Linked DNA regions of Homo sapiens: all the other regions are linked to region 1. The links come from fine-mapping of genetic effects on gene expression. A gene starts in region 1. Each other region holds a variant in brackets. All regions are shown on one strand. Distances are from middle to middle.

What was found. PIP is the estimated chance that this variant, and not a neighbour inherited with it, causes the effect. A credible set is the group of variants that fine-mapping cannot tell apart.
Region 2: its variant is the best candidate, but not a certain one, in a credible set for the expression of XRRA1 in liver (GTEx, PIP 0.79).
Region 3: its variant is the best candidate, but not a certain one, in a credible set for the expression of XRRA1 in whole blood (INTERVAL, PIP 0.85).

The regions. Positions count from the first base shown.
Region 1 is chr11:74,945,338-74,953,587 of GRCh38, reverse strand. XRRA1 (X-ray radiation resistance associated 1) reads left to right here and starts at 4,497. Exons shown (of 19, transcript NM_001378157.1): 1 at 4,497-4,660. SPCS2 (signal peptidase complex subunit 2) reads right to left here and starts at 4,322. Exons shown (of 5, transcript NM_014752.3): 1 at 4,189-4,322. The coding sequence starts at 4,302. RefSeq lists enhancers at 4,068-4,117, 3,420-4,274, 4,198-4,417, 4,548-4,607, 4,728-4,777 and 1 more.
Region 2 is chr11:74,767,508-74,772,507 of GRCh38, reverse strand. All of the region lies in intron 1 of RNF169 (ring finger protein 169), which reads right to left. Among named protein-coding and RNA genes, the nearest start is that of RNF169, 21 kb to the right of the region's middle. RefSeq lists a silencer at 4,001-4,090. The variant G/T (reference allele first, on the strand shown) is at 2,229.
Region 3 is chr11:74,837,251-74,845,500 of GRCh38, reverse strand. It overlaps RNF169 (ring finger protein 169), which reads right to left. Exons shown (of 6, transcript NM_001098638.2): 6 at 3,088-8,250. XRRA1 (X-ray radiation resistance associated 1) reads left to right here. Exons shown (of 19, transcript NM_001378157.1): 16 at 230-428; 17 at 1,218-1,333; 18 at 1,542-1,647; 19 at 2,048-4,591. The coding sequence ends at 2,301. Among named protein-coding and RNA genes, the nearest start is that of RNF169, 93 kb to the right of the region's middle. RefSeq lists an enhancer at 449-1,648. The variant AG/G (reference allele first, on the strand shown) is at 4,713.

The sequences.
Region 1 (8,250 bases):
CACTTCTTTATGGCAAGTGAAACTACAGCTGCAGAAATAAAATAAAAACCCTCCCCGCCCAAATCAAGACACATCAAATTAAATAAATTATATTAGGCTGGGTGTGGTGGCGCACGCTTGTAAACCCCGCACTTTGGGAGGCCGAGGCCGTTGGATCACCTGAGGTCAGGAGTTTGAGACCAGCCTGGCCAACATGGTGAAACCCTGTCTCTACTAAATATACAAAAATTAGCCGGGTATGGAGGCACATGCCTGTAATCCCAGCTACTCGGGAGACTGAGGCAGGAGAATTGTTTGAACCTGGGAGGCGGGGGTTGCAGTGAGTGGAGATTGCGACAAATCGAGACTCTGTCTCAAAAAAAAAAAAAAATTATATTAAAGGTAATAGCTTCTCATTCCCACACAGCAAAAGCCTCTCTATTCATTCAGATCCTGCTCCACTGAGAATAACATTTTTTTCCCCAAGTTCTCTCCCACAGTACCCTCAGTCTTCAAACAATTAGAGGCACCATCCTCTAAAGCTGTTTCTGAAGACTGAGGTGGCAGATCTCAAGTTTTTTCTCTGCGAAATTCAATGCTAAAAGTACTTATCTTGTGTTGATCACTACAGAGAAGCACTCACAGGAAAACGGGCAAATACAAATTGGTGAAATAATACAAGACAGTATGTCATATTAAGTGACAGCTTAATTCCCATGTGCAGTGTAAGTGCTAGAGGAATTCAGGGAGGGAACAGTTCAATGTAAGGCTGAAACTAAGTTTTCCAAGAAAAGGCACTCAAGCAGCTCTTGACTATTCTCTTCTGTCCCTCACTTATTGGTTAAATCTTCCAAGCACTCTTTTGTGAGACCTTTTATCTATTTCTGCTACTCATGTTGGGGTTCTCATCACCTTGTCATTCTATTTTTTACCACAGACAGCCCTTTACAAAGAACATTTACTTCTAGTAGATTCCAAAGGACAGGGAACAGAGCTGGGTGCGGTGGCTCATGCCTGTAATTCCAGTACTTTGGGAGGCTGAGGTGGGCAGATCACTTGAGGCCAGGAGTTCACGATTAGTCTGGGCAACACAGTGAGACCTTGTCTCTACCAAAAATAAAAATAAAAATAAAATAAAAAGGGCAGAGGAAACCAAACTAAAAAACCCAAAGAACATTTACCAGCACTATACAATTTGATCCTTACAACAAGCCTATAATATGTATGAATGTCCACAATATTTACATAAGGAAATTTAAATTCAGTAATATCACACAACTTATCCAAGGTCATGTGGCTTTTATTAGGTAGGTGCAAAAGTTATCGTGGTTTTTGCCATTACTTTCAATGGCAAAAACAGCAATTACTTTTGCACCAACCTAATAACATGCGGCACTAGAACTCAAATTTGTCTCTTTTTATTATATATTATACACTACTGTGTATACGGCCTTATTAAGAAGTCTTCTAATTTCTGTCTCTCCAAACCATCTGAATAGTTTTCCTAAAAACCACTTTACACAGTCTCAAAACCCTTCAACAGCTTTCCTCTACTTCAAGCAATCCACGGCCTCCCTAATCAGATGCTATCTACTTGTCACTACAGTTCCTTTAGAGAGCCTTCTAGTCAACTCAATACCTGAGAAACATAAAACACCATCACATCTGTGTAACTTTACTCAAGGAGACTTTTTTACCTGGCATGTCTTTCTTTTCTCCCCCCAAATAAGGTGCCAGTTCCACTTTCAGGAATGAGGCCTTTCCTTCAGGCTCTTACTCTTTTTTTTTTTTTTTTTTTGAGACAGAGTTTCCCTCTTGTTGCCCAGGCTGGACTGCAATGGCGTGATCTCGGCTCACTGCAACCTCCACCTCCCGGGTTCAAGCGATTCTCCTGCCTCAGCCTCCCGAGTAGGTGGGATTACAGGCATGCACCACCACACTTCGCTAATTTTGTATTTTTAGTAGAGATGGGGTTTCTCCATCTTGGTCTGGCTGGTCTTGAACTTCCGACCTCAGGTGATCCGCCTGCCTTGGCCTCTCAAAGTGCTGGGTTTACAGGTGTGAGCCACTGCGCCCGGCCGAGGCTCTTACTCTTATCAATAAGCTCGCAGGGTTCACTCTATTTCTCTCATTTGAACTTCCGTAACAAGTACACACTTGAGCGAATATACCATATACTTCCTTAAATAGATTCAATTACCCCATCTCCTATATTTGGCTATTCTGAGTGCTCTCTGACAGTAGGATTCTTGATTTACTCCTCCACCATCACACATCTGTACTGGACACTACAGGTAATGGAGATCATTAATGTGTACTGTCTTACTTGGTTCTTCCCAAAACCCTGTGATCTAGGTGCCAGAGATTCCAAAATTCCAAATGAAGAAAGGTTAAGTGACTTGCCAATCTTCATACTGTTAGCAAGTAGCAGAAATACTTCAAAGCTGAAATCTTATGATCCCCACATCCGGGTTCTTTCAATAACACAATGGTGCCATATACACTATTCCATAATAATAGTATTCTATACTGCCTTAGCAGAATGCCCATACTTAATGTTTGCTGATGATGATCCAAGTGCAAGGAAGAGCAAGAGCAGTTAGTGGGGCAGGTAAGCACAGGCTATGAGGTGCTTACCTAGCAAGAGGGAAGGATTTGTGTACACAAATGACCATCAATTCCCCATACTCTCACATGTCTTGAAGCAATTTACCATCCCAACCTCCAGAATATGTTTCTGTATCTTAAGGTTTGAGTGTGAGGCCAGGTGCATGGTGACTTATGCCTGTAATCCCAGCACTTTGGGGAGCCAAGGTGGGAGGATCTCTTGAGGCCCAGGAATTTGAGACCAGCCAGGGCAACACAGTAAGACCCTGACTCTACAGAAAAGTTAAAAGCAAAAAAATTAGTCAGGCATAGTGGTGCACATTTGCAGTCCCAGCTACTCAGGAAGCTGGGGTGGGAAGATCACCTAAGCTTAAGAGTTCAAGGCCGCAGTGAGCTAAGATCCATTCTGGGCAATGGAGCGTGACCCCTCTCACAAGAGAAGAGTGTGAGAACCATGTCTTTCAAAACCAATGACACTCAAAAAGACAAGTAAAAAGACCTGGATCTTAACCCCTCAACATAATCATGTTTTCATTTCTTAAGCACCTACCATGTGTTATGCACAGGGAAGTCTGAAAGCTGTTTTCAATTATATTCAAAAATTCTGCTTACTATATTAAAGACACCATGCTTAACAATTCTCATCAAACCAGCCCAGGGCCCTACAATGAGAGAACTGGAAGGGAATTTAGAGTTAAGTCCCTCATTTTAAGGCTAAATCTCTCACTTTGCAGATGAGAAAACAGATATAGAGAGAGCAAGCATATTTCAAGGTCACAAAGCTAATTAGAGGCAAAATCAACACCAGGACGTTGTTCTCCGTGCAACTGTTTCTTCCAAGATGCTGTGCAAAGAGCAAGAAAGGCCAACCCAGGGACAGTTTTCCTTTTTTTCTTTTCTTTTAAACCCTTGTTGCTAGGACTGCAGTTAAAAAAAATTTTTTTGGATGAGCAGAGGGAGGAAAGGGGCAAGCGTGAGCGGGCAGCAGTGCACTTGGTAGCAAAGAGGGAGGTGGAGGGAAGAGAGGAGAGGGCGGGGAAAAACAACAGGAAAAAAAGAAAAATCTTAAAGGCTTCTTGTCAGCCCAGTAGAACAGTCAATACTCAAATATTTTCAGTATTCGCCTATCATGATAAAACGCCTAAAAACTTCAGTAAGCAAAAGGACAAGAAGCACTTTGGAATCTGTAGCAGCACGCAAGGGTGATGGTGGTAGAGAGTTTGGGGGATACTGATTCTTTAATCTTTGGGCTTCGGTTTTCCGTGTCTGTGAAATGGGCACTGACAACAGTGCACCCAGCCCCCCAGGAGAAAAGAGATGGACACGATTAAATATAGGAAAAATCAAATTACCGAAAAAGGTGTGGCGACCAGGACCAGAACACTTGCGAGAAAAGAAGAAGTTCTAAAGAGGACCGGGTCCAGGTTTGAAGTGTGATGAGGGCAAGGGCAGGCTCCAAGCGTGCGTAGGGTTGTGATAGTGGTCACACAAGGGCTCCCCTCAAAAGGCCGTAGAAAATAAGGGAGACCGGGATGGGAAGGTTGGCTCGCCGCCTCCCAGGCCTCCCCAGGATTCAACTGTTCCCAAGAACCGGCTCCTCACCTTATCCAACAAGCCGCTACGGCCACTTCCTGTCCCGCAGTTGGAAGCACCACCAGCCCCACTACAGCCTCCGCTACCACCGCTTCTCCCGCCCTGTACAGCTGCCGCCGCCATCTTGTCCGCCTCTGCGTCTCCCTCCCCTCCGACTTGTCTGAAGCCGATTGGCTGGAGCTGACAGCGTGACGCGCCGCGCGGAGTCAATCGGGATCCGTAGTTTGGGTCTTGCTGGCGCGAGGTAGTCAGAGGACGTGGCCGCGGGGCTTGCTGGGACTTGAGGTTAGACGTCCCGGCCGTCGGTTGCCGCCTACACTGTCTGCCGTCGCGTCGCAGTTACTAAGGCGTGGGGAAGATAGCGGCAGGCACCGCAGTGGAGCGGCTCCGAGATCCCCGGGGGGCTCGCAGGCGCGCATCCCTCCTGACTGGGACGTCGCCTCCGCAGACCCCTCGGAGGCTGAAGCGACGCCGGAGGCAGGTGCGACTGAAACTTAGTTTTCGAATTCGAGTCTTTCTCCGGCCCAGGTGTGGAGTTTCCAAAGGAGTGGGCAGGAGCTTGTCCTTCATCCTTTTCTAGCCCGGTTGTGGCACTTACCGATTATTCTCTCAAGCAGCTGTCATTTTAGCTGTTTGTAATGTTTTCGTGTTAACGGAGAACTCGCGTTTACTGAGTGCCTACAGTCTGCCAGGCAGTATCCTATGTGCACTTCCAGCCATCCTCTCTCTCACTGAGTCCCACAACAGCCCTGTTAGATGAGGAGGAAACTAAAGAACCTACCCAAAGCCAGATAGCATGTATCTGAACTCGGTTTTCAAGCCGGCATTTAAAAAAAATCAAAACCAATATATATCCCTTCTGACACTCTGCTTTTACGGTTTTAGGATGTAATAGTATTCTAGATTTTAATTATTTTTTTCACAAATGTATATTGAGCACCAATATTGTACTAACGGATACAGGGGATCAAGATAGACCTGGTTGCTACTCTGGTGGACTACTACTCCATGACAGAGTTATCAAATAGCAGTATTGTATTATACCATGCTCTATTACGTTGTATTTTAATTAATTTTTTTCACAAATGTATATTGAGCACCAATATTGTACTAACGGATACAGGGGATCAAGATAGACCTGGTTGCTACTCTGGTGGAACTACTACTCCATGACAGAGTTATCAAATAGCAGTATTGTATTATACCATGCTCTATTACGTTGTATTGTTTTTTAATTCCTATATATCCCCCATAAGCGTCTAAAGAATTAAACAAATATTTTTGAGTTTCTTACTATGTAACAGGCACTATTCTAGTCACCAGGGATATATCCCTGAATAAAACAGACAAAAACTTGTCTTGGGGAAGCCAAAATTCATGTGAAAATAATTATCTCGGCCGGGCGTGGGGGCTCATGGTTGTAATCCCCGCCAAGGCAGGCGGATCACCTGAGGTCAGGAGTTAAAGACCAGCCTGGCCAACATGGTGAAACCCCGTCTCTACTAAAAATACAAAAATGAGCCGGGCGTGGTAGCGGGCACCTGTAATCCCAGCTACTTGGGAGGCTGAGGCAGGAGAATTGCTTGAACCGGGGAGGCGGAGGTTGCAGTGAGCCGAGATCAGAAAGAAAAGAAAATAATTATCACTAAATAACTAAATTATTACTAAAAAGAAAATAAATATCACTAAATAGCAATAACATCAGATGATATTTCATTACCTCTGTGAAGCAATCCGTGGACACTAGTCAGATCCCCTGTAGCTTGTTGTTGCAGTTTATCTTTTACAACTTCTCATTTTTCTTTTATTTAAAATAAAGTGAGATGATACAGCATTGCCCTAGTCACTTTTTATTTTATTTTTTATTTTTTGAGACAGAGTCTCACTCTGTCACCCAGGCTGGAGTGCAGTGGTGGGATCTTGGCTCACTGCAACCTCTGCCTCCTGGGTTCAAGCAGTTCTTGTGCCTCAGCCTCCCAAGCTGTAGTCTTTGTAGCTGGGACTACAGGCACATGCCACCACACCTGGCTAATTTTTATATTTTTAGTAGAGACAGGATTTCGCCGTGTTGGACAGCCTAGTCTTGAACTCATGACCTCAAGTGATCCGTCTGCTTCGGCCTCCCAAAGTGCTGGGATTACAGGCATGAACCACCACACCAGGCCAACTTCTCATCTTTCAAGATCCAGCTTTAATGTCACCTACCCTGTGAAACTATTTCTGATACTTGCTTCTTCTTTCTTCACCCACTGCATGAAGTGCTCCTGTGGCATTTTGTTCATGGGTTGGGTTAGTTCAATTAACAATCATTGAGACTCTTCCTTCAGTAGGCCAGGTCCTGTGTGAGATGCAGGATAAAGAGATAAGTACAGGCTCACGCCTGTAATCCCAGCACTTTGGGAGGCCGAGGCGGGCGGATCACGAGGTCAGGAGATCAAGACCATCATGGCTAACATGTTGAAACCCCGTCTCTACTAAAAATACAAAAAATTACCCAGGCATGGTGGCGGGCGCCTGTAGTCCCAGCTTCTAGGGAGGCTGAGGCAGGAGAATGGCGTGAGCCCGGGAGGCGGAGCTTGCAGTGAGCTGAGATAGCGACACTGCACTCCAGCCTGGGTGACAGAGCAAGACTCCGTCTCAAAAAAAAAAAAAAAGAAAAAGAGGTAAGTAGGACCCAGGCCTGACCTGACCTTGGAGATACTCACAGCCTGTAGTGAGGTGGGGAACAAACAAGGAAGCAGGCATTATAATACAGTGTGGTATAGTGCCTGTATTAGTCCATTTTCACACTGCTATAAAGAACTGCTCAAGACTGGGTAATTTATAAAGGAAAGAGGTTTAATTGACTCACGGTTCTGCATGGCTGGGGAGGCCTCAGGAAATTTACAATCATGGCGGAAAGGGAAGAGGCAAGTCTTACATGGCAACAGGCAAGAGAGGGCAAGAGTGTGAAGGAGGAACTGTCAGTTATAAAACCATCAGATCTCGTGAGAGCTCACTCACTATGGTGAGGACAGCATGGGGGACCACCTCCTTGATCCAATCACTTCCTACTAGGTCTCTCTCTCAACACATGGGGATTATGGGGATTACAATTCAAGATGAGATTTGGGTGGGGACACAAAGCCTAACCATGTTAGTGCCTCCATTAAGAAGTGGGCCTGATGGCTGGGCAAGGGGGTTCACGCCTGTAATCCCAACACTTTGAGAGGCTGAGTTGGGAGTTTGAGGCAGCCTGGGCAACATGGTGAAAACCCATCTCTATCAAAAATATAGAAATTTAGCTGGGCATGGTAGCACACGTCTGTGGTCCAGCTACTTGGGAGGCTAAGGTGGGAGGATTGCTTGAGTCTGGGAGGTGGAGGTTGCAGTGAGCTGAGATCATGCCACTGCACTCCAGCCTGGGTAACAGAGTGAGACCTTGTCTCAAGAAAAAAAGAAAAAATAAATAAAAAAAGAAGTGGGCTTGAGGAGGCTCAGCCTAAGGAGAGGGAGATACAGGAAAGCTAATCTGTATGTAGCCGGGCAAGGAAGAGGGGCAGAAATGTGATAGGCCAAAGGAATGGAACAAGCAAAAATATGCCTTACTCTGTGTGTGTGTGTGTGAGAGAGAGAGAAAGAGAGATGTTTGTTTTGGAGGAAGCGCTACAGTCAGATTGGCATTAGCTGCATCAAGTTTGAGATGGAGACCAGAGGTAACTAAAGCTAACCAGGAAGTCAGCCTCCAAATCTGGAACTTTGACTTTTTTTTCTACCATATAAAGATCTTACTTGTCTTAGATAATGTAACCAGGGGTTATGTGCCCTTCTTGGCCCATTAGTTGTAGATCTACACCTTCTCACCTAATATTCCTAATAGGGAACTAGAATTTCTGCGATAGCATCCAGGTCTGCATGCCTCCTACAGGCTTCAGTGTGAGTCATCTTTTGTATTATATGCATGGCAAATATCTTTTCCCAGACTGTGTCTTATCTTTCAACTTTGACTTTCCTATTTTTATCTGGCAGAAATTTATTTTGTGTAAATAATCATGTAAACGATCCCGTCCTTTCAGGTTTGTGCTTCGTGTG
Region 2 (5,000 bases), 180 kb after region 1:
CAATACATAAAAGTAAAAAAAAAAAAAAAAAAAAACCAGCATCCCTAGTAGTAAATTAACATTTACTGAAGGATTAAGTGCCAAGTACTGTGCTAGGGGTTTCCACACATATTCTTATTTAAGCCTTATAATAACCCTGTGTGGTTGTAGTATTTACTTTTTACAGACCAGAAAACAGAAACCTCTCAAGGACGTTAATTAAGCAGCTTTGTCACGGTCAATGAGACAAAGGTGGCAGAACTGAGATTCAAATCCAGATTTTCTGATTTCAAATTCACTCCCCTTCCCTGACATACATGACCTGCATAAATAAAAGTGATTTTTTTAAAAAAGACCAATTTTTCCCTTAGATCAGGCAAAGGAATCATTCATAGAACTAATTCAAATTACATCAAGAAAGTTAAAACTTTCTATATTTTCCAGACTAGTTTATACATCAAAGCATTTTCCACAATGCTGAATACAGAATGAGTATCCCTTATCTGAAATGTTGGGGACCATCAGTGTTTCGGACTGTCTTTGGATTTTTTAGTATTTGTATATACATAATTAATTATCTTAAGGATGGAAACCAAGTCTAAATACGAAATTGATTTATGTTTTTTGTTTTAAATTATTTTATAGAGAGAAGGTCTTGATGTTGTCCAAGCTGGTCTCGAACCCCTGGCCTCAAGCAATCCTCCTACCTCGGCCTCCCAAAGTATTGGGATCATAGGCATGAGCCACCATGCCCAGCCCATTTATGTACCATATATACCTTATATACACAGCCTGGAGGTAATTTTGTATATTTTATTTTTTTTGGAGACAAAGTCTTGCCCTGTCACCCAGGTTAGAGTTTAGTGATGCAATCATAGCTCTCTGCAGCCCCAAACTCCTGGGCTCAAGCAATCCTCCCACCTCAGCCTCCTGAGTAGCTGGGACTATAGGTGTGCACCAACATACCTGGCTAATTTTTTTACTTTTGTAGAGACAAGGGTCTCCTTATATTGCCCAGGCTGGTATTGAACTCCTGGCCTCAAGTGATCATCCCACCTCAGCCTCCAGAGTAGCTGGGATTACAGGCACAAGCCATAATAGCGACCAGTTAATAATTAAAATAGTTTTGTGCATAAAACAAAGTCTGTGTTAAGTACTTATATGTAGAATTTTCCACTTGTCATGTCATGTCAGCACTTATAGTTTCAGATTTTTGGCACATTTTCGATTTCAGATTTTCAATTAGGGATGTTCAATCGGTAGTAGACAGAGCCAAAGACTCAAAAGCAAGCCAAGTCCAAGACTATATAAAACTAGCCCAAATCTACTTTAAGTGATGGCAAAAAAAATTACTACAACTAGTATTTCCCCAACCAGTAACCTTAATGTTAGTATGACTAAGTATCAAAAATGCACATGGAGGCCAGGCACGGTGGTTCACGCCTGTAATCCCAGCACTTTGAGAGGTCGAGGCGGGGGGGATCACCTGAGGTCAAGAGTTCGGGACCAGCCTGGCCAACACGGTGAAACCCTGTCTCTACTAAAAATAAAAAAAATTAGCCAGACATGGGGGCACTGGCCTGTAATCCCAGCTACTCGGGAGGCTGAGGCAGGAGAATCCCTTGAACCCAGGAGGCAGAGGTTGTAGTGAGCTGAGATCGTGCCACTGCACTCCAGCCTAAGCAACAGAGCAAGACTCCATCTCAAAAAAAACAAAAACAAAACAAAACGAAAAATGCATGTGGTAACGTGCAAAAACAGGAAGAAACAATGGGTAAGAGAAACCTGCAACTGTAAGGTGAAAACATACTGATTTAATTCATTTATTATAGAATTCTGTTCTTCCTAGTCATTTATCTAATGAAAACACACTAGCCAAGAGGCTAAACGTATGCCAAGTACTGTGTAACACAGGAAATAAACATACTCATGTACATTATTCATGGAGGAACTGCGAGCCATTATTTTGAAAAAAATAGCGAGCTACTGGTAGATATGTTTAGATGTCAGTAACCATGTATCCCCACAATTTAACAGTTTGGGGGATATCTTTCATATCTACAGCTAAAATGAACAAATGGCCTCAGTAATACTAAGCCTGGCCTCTACCTTCTCCTATGAATTATAATTCTTATATCCATAACCTGCTTTCTACCAAGATGAGATAAATATTTCCAGCCCCTTGAAAAGCTAGTGGCAATTTATAAGCAAACTGGCAGCTTACTGTTCCTGCAGTATACATCAAAAAA[G/T]AAATACGATGGCTATCGCTTAGACTCTCAAGTTCTGCCCAAGGCCCAGGAATGGGCTCTCCAAGAGTACCCTGAACTCAAATTCTGAGTAAAATCTGTTCTGCTCTTGGTTCTTACAATTGTACTTTCCCTTTTTCATGCACTCTATTTCCTTCCTTTCATTATCAAACTGTGAAACAGTAGTCTAAAGCCAGGTATGGTGGCTCACACCTGTAATCCCAGCACTTTGAGAGACTGAGGCAGGAGGATTGCTTGAACCCAGGAGTTCAAGACCAACCTGGGCAACATGGTGAGACCCTGTATAGTACTAAAAATACAAAAAATTAGTTGGGCACGGTGGCACATGCCTGTAGTCCCAGTTACTTTGGAGGTGGGAGGATCGCTTCAGCCTGAAAAGTAGAGGCTGTAATGTGCCATGATTTCATCACTGAACTCCAGCCTGGATGTCAGAGGGAGACCTTGTTGGGGGGTACAAGGAGAGTAGAGTCTACATTGGCTGATTGTTTCTTCATTTCTCACTCAAGCTATTGAAATGACTCCTATCTTCCGTACTTTTACTTATATAAATGGCATCAAAGGATACATATTCTTTTGCAACTTTTCCTTTTGCAAGTATTTTTTCCAGATTTATCCATGTTGATATATACCCAGTTCATTCATTCTAACAGCTGTAGAAACTAATTTATCCCTTCTCCTATCAAAGACAACTGTTACTACATTTTCTAGTACTACAGTGCTGTAATGTGAGCATCATTGTGTGTGTGCATATGTACACAAGAGTTTCACTATGGCACACACCTATTAATGGAATCTCTGCATAGCAAGGAATCTATCTCTTCAACCTTACTAGATATGGCCAAACTGCTCTCCAACGTGGTTGTATGGCAACTTATACTCCTCCAGCAGTATATAGGTGCTCATTATTTATAATTAATCAATTACAAATTATAGCAGTCTGATGGCATATCACTGGTTTAATTTGCATTTCCCTGATTGCTAATGCTGTTGCGTATCATTCTAGATGTTTACCAGACTTTCAGTTTCCTTCTTCTATGAAATGCCTATTCAAATCTTCTCACCATTTTTCTAATAAGCTATCTGTCATCATAATGATTTGTAGTTCATATATGTTGGATATCAATCTTTTGTCAGTTACTTCACTGCAACTATCTTCTCCCAGCCTCTGGTTGGTCTTCTTACTTAATCTCTTTTTCTGTTTCTGGTGTGTTTGTTTTGTTTTGTTTCTTTTGAGGCAGGGTCTCGCTTCTGTCACCCAGGCTAGAGCACTCACTGCAGCCCGAAACTCCTGGACTCAAAGTATTCTTCCACCTCAGCCTCCTGAATAGCTGGGTCTACAGGCACACCCCACCATGCCTGCCTAAATTTTTATATTTTTTTGTAGAGACAAGGTCTCCCTATGTTGCCCAGGCTGGTGTTGAACTCCTGGCCTCAAGCAATCCTCTCACCTCAACCTCCCAAAGTCCTGGGATTATAGGCATGAGCCACCACGCCTGGCCCAATTTTTAACTTTAATGTGGTCAAATTATCAATCTTTACATTTTTTGTTTGTTTGAAAGCCTTTCTCTACTCCATTTTCATAGAGATAGTCCTAGCATTTTCTAAGTTTTACAGTTTGACCTTTAATCCATTTACAACCTTTTTTTTTTTTTTTTAAGACAGAGTCTAGCTCTGTCACCCAGACTGCAGTGCAGTGGCGTGATCTCAGCTCACTACAGCCACCGCTTCCCAGGTTAAAGCGAATCTCCTGTCTCAGCATCCTGAGTAGCTGGGACTACAGGCATGCGCCATCACGCCTGACTAATTTTTGTATTTTCAGTAGAGACGGGGTTTCCCCATGTTGGCCAGGCTGGTCGCAAACTCCTGACCTTGAGTGATCCGCCCACCTCAGCCTCCTGAAGTGCTGGGATTACAGGCGTGAGCCACCATGCCTGGCTCTACAAATAATTTTTTGCATATGGTGCTAAAGATCTATTTTTTTCTCTAAGGTTAGCTAACCACCCATGAAAAGTAAAAATGACACCTTTACCCTAGTGATTTGTAATGGCCACTCATTATCCACCAAATTTAAATATATGAGGGCATGTTTCTATGCTCTTTAATTTTAACATTAATTATTCAACCACCCTGATACCAATACTTCACTGTCTTAATTAACATGGCTTTAAACAGCTTGATATTTGAGAAAGCAAATCCACCCATCGTGTTCTTCAAAATGGTCTTGACTATTCTTGGCCACTAATCATCCTTATTGATAAATTCCACTTAAAAAGCAAAGACAGTGGCTGGGCACAGTGGCTCACACCTGTAATCTCAAGACCTTGGACAGGCCAAGGCAGGGGGATATCCTGAAGCCAGGAGTTCAAGACCTGCCCTGGCAACATACTGAAACCCCATCTCTATTTTTAAAAAATAAAAAAGAATGGGGAGGCCGAAGTGGGCGGATCACGAGGTCAGGAGATTGAGACCATCCTGGCTAACACGGTGAAACCCCGTCTCTACTAAAAAAAAAAAAATACAAAAAATTAGCCAAGTATGGTGGCGGGCACCTGTAGTCCAAGCTATTCGGGAGGCTGAGGCAGGAGAATGGCGTGAACCCAGGAGGCGGAGGTTGCAGTGAGCCAAGATCGCGCCACTGCACTCCAGCCTGGGCGACAGAGCGAGACTCCATCTCAAAAAATAAATAAAAATAAAAATAAAAAAGAATTATCCAGACGTGGTGGCCCGTGCCTGTAGTCCCAGCTACTCGGGAGG
Region 3 (8,250 bases), 110 kb after region 1:
TTGGCTAGGTTGGGGCTTCCTCTGGGATCACCCAAAACCACTGTATTCCCTCTGTTAAAGCATTTATCAATTGTCTATTTTTATATCTGCTTTCTTCCATCCCAGTCTTGGTCTTACCCTTGCCCTTAACAGGGCCCAGCAGAGACCAGCACAGAGATGATACTCCGAATGTTCATGGAATGAATGAATGAATGAGTGACAAATGAATGCGTTTTCTTCCTGGGCACAGGTGAGTGAACTGCCTTCCTCCGTCATCCATAAGGATGATTTAGAGTTAAAGGAGAAAGACCAAAAGAAACCACCAACGGCACCCAGAGAGGTGAAAGGGACTCGGAGGAAACTCCCAACTGCCTTCCTTCCCAGCAAGTACCACGGCTATGAAGAACTGCTGACAGCCAAGCCTGATCCAGCCTTCATTGAGCCAAAGGGTATGTGAGGGCATATCCTTGCTCTAGGGCAAGAGGCCATCTCCACAGCTCAGAGCAAGTCAGGGTCAAGCCAAGGCTGGCACCAAGCTGTCTTTTCCCAACTAGGGTGCTGTCCTCTGTCTAAATACCTGTCAAAGGGCTCCTTTTAGGGTGTCCTTTGTTTGAAGCCCCACATATTGGGACCCCTGTCCTGGCCTAGGCCTTCACTGGCTTATGGGGAGCCACAGTTTATTCAGAGATTCTAGTTGGTCTCAGCCTAGCTGCTCTGGATGATAAAGTCTCTCCTCAGGAAAAGTGTGATGAATGAACACCCAGAATGGCCAGATTCTTGAGCTTTTCCCAGCCCAGGTTAAGTTCCCAAACTGAACGTCCAAAATCGTTCCTATCTGGTTGGAGGCAAAGGAGGCAGCTTCATCTCTGTGTTAATCAGTACTTCCAAAGCAACTGGCATTCAGCTGGGCTGTTCTGGGTGTTAGCCCCTGCGATATAACCCCCTGAGGTTAATGGGGTCACATTGGAGCCAGCCTTTTCCCCCACTCCAATACTATTTACCCATTACAATCTGTGCTATTTTTCCATTATAATATGGGACAAATACTCACTGAAGAATGATGGAACTTCAGGCACTGGAACAGATCCGGAAGAAACCTGGGGGCAGTGTTTTCTTTTGGGGACTCTCAAATCCTTTTACCTAGAGCTGCTGTGAGACTGAGGAATGAAGCAATCAGGGGAGGCATCTGGGAGGAGGAGGGGGAAGTGCCTTGACTCAGTCTTGCCTTCTTGCCCTAGGAATCCAGAAGAATGCACAAGCCCTGCAACAAATGCTGAAGCACCCACTCCTGTGCCACTCCTCCAAGCCCAAGCTGGACACTCTTCAGAAACCCTATGTTCACAAAGAGAAACGGGTAAACATCCAGCTCACTGAATGTGTAAATGGCCCCTGAGTACCGCCCACAATTACAGATGTGGCTGTCACCTTGGGACCCTCTGAGGGCCATGCTTTCCCAGCACCCCCAGATGCCCCCCAGCCTGTTGCTGTGACTGTATGAAGTTAGGCCAGGGAAGTCTGTGCATAAACCTGGGATAACACCCTCCTCCATGACCTTCTGCCAGGCCCAGAGAATCCCGATTCCACCCCCAAAGAAGACTAGAGCCCAACTTCTGGATGACATCTTCATTCGCTTGCGGGATCCCCGGAACATTACAGAGGCTCCACTAGGTACGGCTCTGCCACAGCTGCCAGGATCCCAGATCCAGTTCACGCCTGCTGGCTAAAGGCAAAGAAAGGGCTTGTGTCAGTGCAGGAAAGGCCCTTAGAGAGCAACTGCCTACATCAGTCTCTACATGTAGATGGACAAAAGGAGAGCCAGCGTGAGGCAGGGAGTTGCCTAAAATCACACAGCATGTTAAGGTCCTGAACCAGGGCTTAAGATAGAGTCAATGCATAGGGGCAGTAGGAAGTCAGTGACTTCCCAAGCTGGAAAGGCCATTTTTAGCCCCTTAGCATCCTCCTGCCACACCATCCCATTTTCCAAGGGTCTCTGGACCCAATCCTCTTGCTTCTGGCTAGGTGAGAACCAGGATGAGCTTGGTGCCTCTCCTGGCTTCTTTTCCTGCAGGTGCTGTCCTGCACCAGTGGACAGAACGGCGGCTGGTGAACCACAAGCAGTACCTGGAGGCCAAGAGGCTGTTGAAGGAGTTCCAGGCACGTTACCGGCAGCTGGTGAGTGGCTCTCTGCGCACAGTGTTCGGGACTACCCCGCTCCCCATGGCCTGCCCAGCGCTGAGTGAGAGCCAGCCCAAGTTCGGCCACTTCCTCGAGTTCATGGATGAGTTCTGCCAGGAGCCCACAGCCAGTGACTCACAAGGCTAGAGCTGTGCATGGGGGCTGTGTGCACCACCCGGCCTGTGCCCCAGCTCTCCCCGAGGGCTCTGTGCCCTGGACCGCACCTCAAGGTTGACCAGCCGGCCACAGGCCTCAGAGCTCAGCTGGGCCCCACTTGCTGGCCACAAGGTGGCATCCCCTTGTCAGGATCTCCCCTCCTTGGCCCAGGCATGACCTGGTGCCTGGCCCAGCGGCAATAAAGAGTGGGTGCACAGGGCAATAGACTGGGTGCCACATGCATTCTTTCTTGGAACCCAGGCCACAGCAGCATTGTCACACTTCCCTCTAAAAATGGTTTTCCAGTTCAGATGCAACAGGGATACATTTGTTCTCTGTTGTATGAGAAACTGACACCAAGGGGATCTTAACAAATTCCTGAACAATGGCTCCAAAAAAGGGTATTTTTAAAAACCAGATCTTGTGAGTACAGCCCTAATGTGCAGGGACAGTGTCATCCTGTATATTCGTTCTTTACTCAGACTCTTTCTTGGTTCCTTCATTAGGAGCATGAATGGTTGAATGTGAACATGACAGTAAATTGGAGCAAACTGTAAACTGGACATAACTTATGCCAAAAGACGTAGTTGTACACCATGGAAACCCCATCCCTGCTCCTAATCTCTACTGCCATTCTGAATGCCAAAGCAAGACATCCAACATGGGGCATCTCCCAGAGCACATACAGCACCAAAAATCCACACACAGCCTAAGCTTAACCCATGTTTTTGTCTGAGATTGTTCACCAGAGACAAGACTCTGACTATAAACAGAACATCCACTTTCATGAGTTTCCTTTACTGTATTCTCAACTTGGGCCTTGCTTCAAGCAGGCAAACATACATTGAAGAATGCACTTTGGTACTGTTTAAATAACAACACATCAGCCCACTTGATTCCATGCCATGTCCTTGCTGACAGAAACATCCCCAACAGGGCATGCCCTGGTCCAAGTCCTCTGTCTTTGTCAAAATGCTCTTCTGATGAGTTGGAGAGGAGGCAGCCAGCAGTGGCAGTCCACAAGGATCCAGGTACCTTCTCCAATCCTAAAGCAGACAGCAGGTTGAATAAAACCAATACACAACCTATTTTCTAGGCAGGAGGGGAAAAGGCCCTTAGGACAATAATATTTGTACAAAGAGTTGAGAGTAAACAAACAGTGTATCAGGTTCAAAAAAAAAAAAACTATTCGTTGGCATTTAAATTTTTTTCCCTTGCATAGTATCTATTCTCTCACTAGGACTTTTAAGTGCTCTGCTGGAGGCTCAGCGTTGGTAATACCATGTTTGATGCAAACTTGAACCCAATGCTCTCATTGGTGGCACAGCTTTGGAGGGTGGTGGCCCCAAGAAGGGGCAATCTGCCTGCTGCTATATTAATCTGGAACCAGGGCCAACAGCTACTCTTGAACTATGGTATTTGAAGAGCGAGTTCATTGCCTGTTTTACCTTAAATGACAGGAAAGGAAGATGAACAAACCTTGCTTTGCCTTGGCTTCAAACTAGTTCTTGATTTAAGACACCAGAAAGGGAGAGAGGGAGTCTGCTTAGAGTTTGAGGTTGCCTCTCACAAGATGACAGTTAAAAGTTGCCACCTTACTTAAAAGGCATTAAGGAGGCATTTACTCACAAAGGAGAGAGAGTAAATTTTTTTCTTAAGAGGAAAAAAATACTGATAATACATAGAACAATCTGCACATCCAGTCTTGGCACTTTTTCCAATTTGACTGATCTCTAAACTGGTGACCCTTGCATATATCTTAGTCTCTTTTCTACAATCTTCTTCAGAAAGCTACAGCAGCTAACAATCATGTATAAAGATGCATTTCCTAGATCATCTTCAGAAGAAAATCTCTTCAGCACTTTCCCTAGAATCTGTCTCCTGACCACCCCGCCCCAGACCTGCTTTCTCTTTTGAGAATTCATAACCAGGTATGTTTAGATACCAGTTCAAAAGACCACTCTATGGGTTGATGAGGAAAAGGCTGCCTGAGGACAATTTAAGACCATAATGAGTTTCCAATTTTTAAAGAAAATTTGGCTAGCTGGCTTTTAATTCTTAATTAAAATCATTAAATTTAATTAAAATTATTCCAATCAAAATATATCACTTTCCAAGATTCCACATTCATATTACTTACTTATACTATGGAGACTTTCTCTACCTGAGCATGTATTCAGGGGCTATAGGTACATTTAACTCTAACTAACTGAAAAAAATCAGGAAGAAAAAACTATTAAAATAAAATAACCTCCTAAATCATTTGGGGGTATCCCCATCATTGGTGCGTGTGTCTGCGTGTGTCAAACTTTAATGATTATTTATTCAGACCCTGGAAAACCACACTATAAAATAGGGCACTGGATCACAAGTTCGTTTGGTTAAAAAAAAAAAAAAAAAAA[AG/G]TGGGGGCGGGGGGCAGAGAAGAAGTTTAACTTGGATGATTTCCATGCCCATTCCAGCTGTAACATTCTATGACTGTGACCCAGCCTTTGTTCTCTTTTCTCACTCTCCTACTAGACATTTCAATGAAAAGTTAGGCAGGAAAAAGGAAAGGAATCCCAAGTTGCTGCCAGCTCTGATGAGAGATCAGGTTGGGGGAGAGATTAGGTGGTTACTGAATTGAGGTGTGGGCCTCCCCTGACCATGTCAGTGATCCACAACCCACCTCACTTCTTGGGGCTTAAGCTAAAAGCAGCTTCTGAAGAGATGTTAATGTCCTGTAATCACTAGAGGAGAAAATTCATTCTCCTTCCATAACATTACTTAGTAAAGGAAAAGCGGTGGTGCAATCAAATTCACAAATACCAATGGGGTCTCTAAAATGTAGAATGCAGCTTGCTGGGTGCTGGTCAGTTTTCTAAATGGGACCAGAAATGGCTTTCCTAAGACCATAAATGAACTCTCCAGCCACACATACATTCAAATGCATTCCATTAGACATTGAGCTCCTCAAGAGCAGGAACTGCTTTATCTCCACAGTCCAGCTCAGGGTTGGCTCAAGTCTGAAGCTCAGTAAATGTCTGTCAAATAGAAAAGAAAGGATGAGCCTTCGGTCATCAGCTACATGAGTCAGGCACGGTGGCAGCTTCCCATTTTAGTCAGTTTGCCAGTTTGTAACCAGACAGTAATCAATTAAGAGCTTTAATCTCTTAAGGACATTTTTCCTTTAGGGAAAATGAACAAAAAATAAAACATTTATTACCAGTGCTGCTTCCAAGCAAAAATTTAAAAATTAAATTAAAATTTAAAAAATAAGTGAAGCCACTTAGGAGTTTCCCTGGCAAGCCTCACCCAAGAAGACTTAACCTTTTTTAAAAAGAGGCAAATAGATTAAAGGGGCCAGGGGCTGGATGCATAATCCCCTGATCTGATACCAACCCAACAGGCCCAGATGACTTCTTCCAGCAGATACAATCAATGGGTCAAGAACATTTTCTCAAAGTTTCTTTCCCTCTCTATGGAAAAGAGCTGACAGCCCCCTTCTAAGGGCACCACATTTCCTGGATTTCCCCTCAGACTGACCTTCACCCTCCCCCCTAACTTCCCCTTTAATAATAAAAAAACCCAGAATGCATATATACAAGGAACAGAGTAAGACATGGGTAATTTGTATGGTGAACTGGGCTTCAATGATTTGTGAGGAATTTGTTTTGTGAAATCCTGCACCTCTTATTCTAGCTCACAAACCCTTCCCATCGTTCTGTTTCCTTCCTTGTCCTTTTCTGTTCCCCCAAATAATACACATCAACATATCGACTTTTAACCAACTTCAGAATCATGGAAGGAGAGAGGGAGATTTTTCAGAAAGAAAAGCATTCAGGTTTTAGTTATTAAGGATGGGAAGCATCTTAAAATTCAGATAATACCTTAGTGGTTTTTCCTTCCTCCAAAGCCAACCTGATTAAAGATCAACCCTCCTCCCTCCTTAACCTAGACCACTCTACCTATATTTGAAGGACTGTTGCTCAGCAGGAAGTTTAGAAAACAACTGTCAATACCATCCTAGGCATCACTGTAGGTACAAGGGGGGAAGGCAGTAAGCTGGACCTAGAGTTTGGACTATTTGCTTAACAAGAATTTGTTCTTCATTCTGCACTTGTTACAACTGCTATGCAATTCTTAAAATGAAAGTATTAATTTGGGGAAATATTTAAAATATATATCTTTTATCTATTAAAAATATTTCTTTTTACCAAAGACAAAAATCAATTCCAACTGAAAAGTGTTTTTCAAATTACTGGAGATATAGAGAAAGATGGCAAGTGGAAAAATAAGTGTCTTTGCTCCTACCAACAAGACTAGCCTTCCAATAATATTTACTAAGATCAAAAAGGAAATGCGTGAAATGGCAGTAACTGATAAGTTTCCTCTAAGGGCATTTATAGTAAGGTCACCCTCCCTGTCTTCTGTAAACCAGAGCCAGCTCTTCTGTTTTGGGCACAAACATGCCCTCCAGCAGCTCTTGGAGGACATAAATTGTTGGTAGGGCCCAGAACTGAAGTGGTGTGACTACAAAATCATGAGTTTGGTAAATGTTTTTAAAACATACATCTGCATATGTGCACACACACAGAGAACACAGAATGCATACATTCAGGTGAGTGATGTTCCCCACCAACGTAGTCACCAAAGAGATTCCACCTATCTCAATGATGACCACAATGTTTAAGACATCTCTGGAATTTCTGTTTGGGAACTGTTTGGGAACTATGAGCTGCACAAGAAAATGGCTCTGCTTTACAGCAGCACTCATTACTACAAACCCACTTGATAAGCCACCTTCTTTCCCAGAGGCTTCAAATAGCTGCTGGCTAGTCTCAGACATTACATTCTCTCTCTCTCTCAACCACAAATAACCACAAAACACTGAAGATTTGCCCTGAGAAAAGGCAAATCTGAGAACACTTAAAAGGAGTTATACTATCTGCCTTGATCAATGGGTCACTGTTCTGGACTTTGGCTTCTAGGTCTAGAAGCTGAGGAGGACCTTAGGAGGAGGCTGGAATAGATAACCATTAAGGTCCCTTCCAGTTCTAGCATTTTGGGAGTCAGTGTTTCTAGTCTTTGAAGACAGTTCCAGAAATGCTTTCACCAATGGCACTGGAAAAACTAAGCAGTATCCTGCTGGGGCTACTCAAAGGAAACAACATATATTGGGATATATAAGCTCTGGAAGGTCTGTTAAAATGCCAGTCACATGACTTTATATAGTAACTCATACTACATGGGGCATGCCAGCCCATCAGAAATTCCCTAAAATCATATCTTCATCCCTATTCTCAATGAGCCCAGATGGGCAGAAGCACCAAGCACCACCAGGGATGCAAAAGACACATGGTGTCAGCTGCTAAGGAAAATAAACCCCCAAAGGTCCATGGGACTGAATTTACCAGCTGCATCCAGCTAGATACCTTGTTTCCATAGTATGGAGTTTAAGTATTGTTCCTTGCCTGACTTCAGGGTGATTTTTTAGGATTTTAGATCAACATTGCAGATAACCCTTGGCCATTTGAAAAGTAATAATGAAGCCTGATTATAGTTTGTCTCATAGGCTGAAACCCCCAGAAAAGCAGAAGGCTCTAAACTGTGGGGGATGGGGATAATGCACATATATGTTTATCCACCCTGTCGATCTTGTTTGCATGTGGATTCTGCACTATCAGTGTTCAATGCCCAGCCTAGCTTCCCCTAGGCTCCCCTGGCACACCCTTAGGTTGTGATCTATTTGGGAAACCTTTAGAAAATCCATGGGTTATGCCACTTGGTAGTTGAGAGAACCAGAACATCTGCACTGCAGTTTCATCATCTAAAAATGGGGCTAATGCCAGTTACATGAGAGGTCTCTTGGAAAGACTAAATTAATAAGGTCTGTAAATGTGCTCTGTCAACTATATAGCATTCACCAAATATTATTTTTTAAACAGAGAATGTAAATTAAC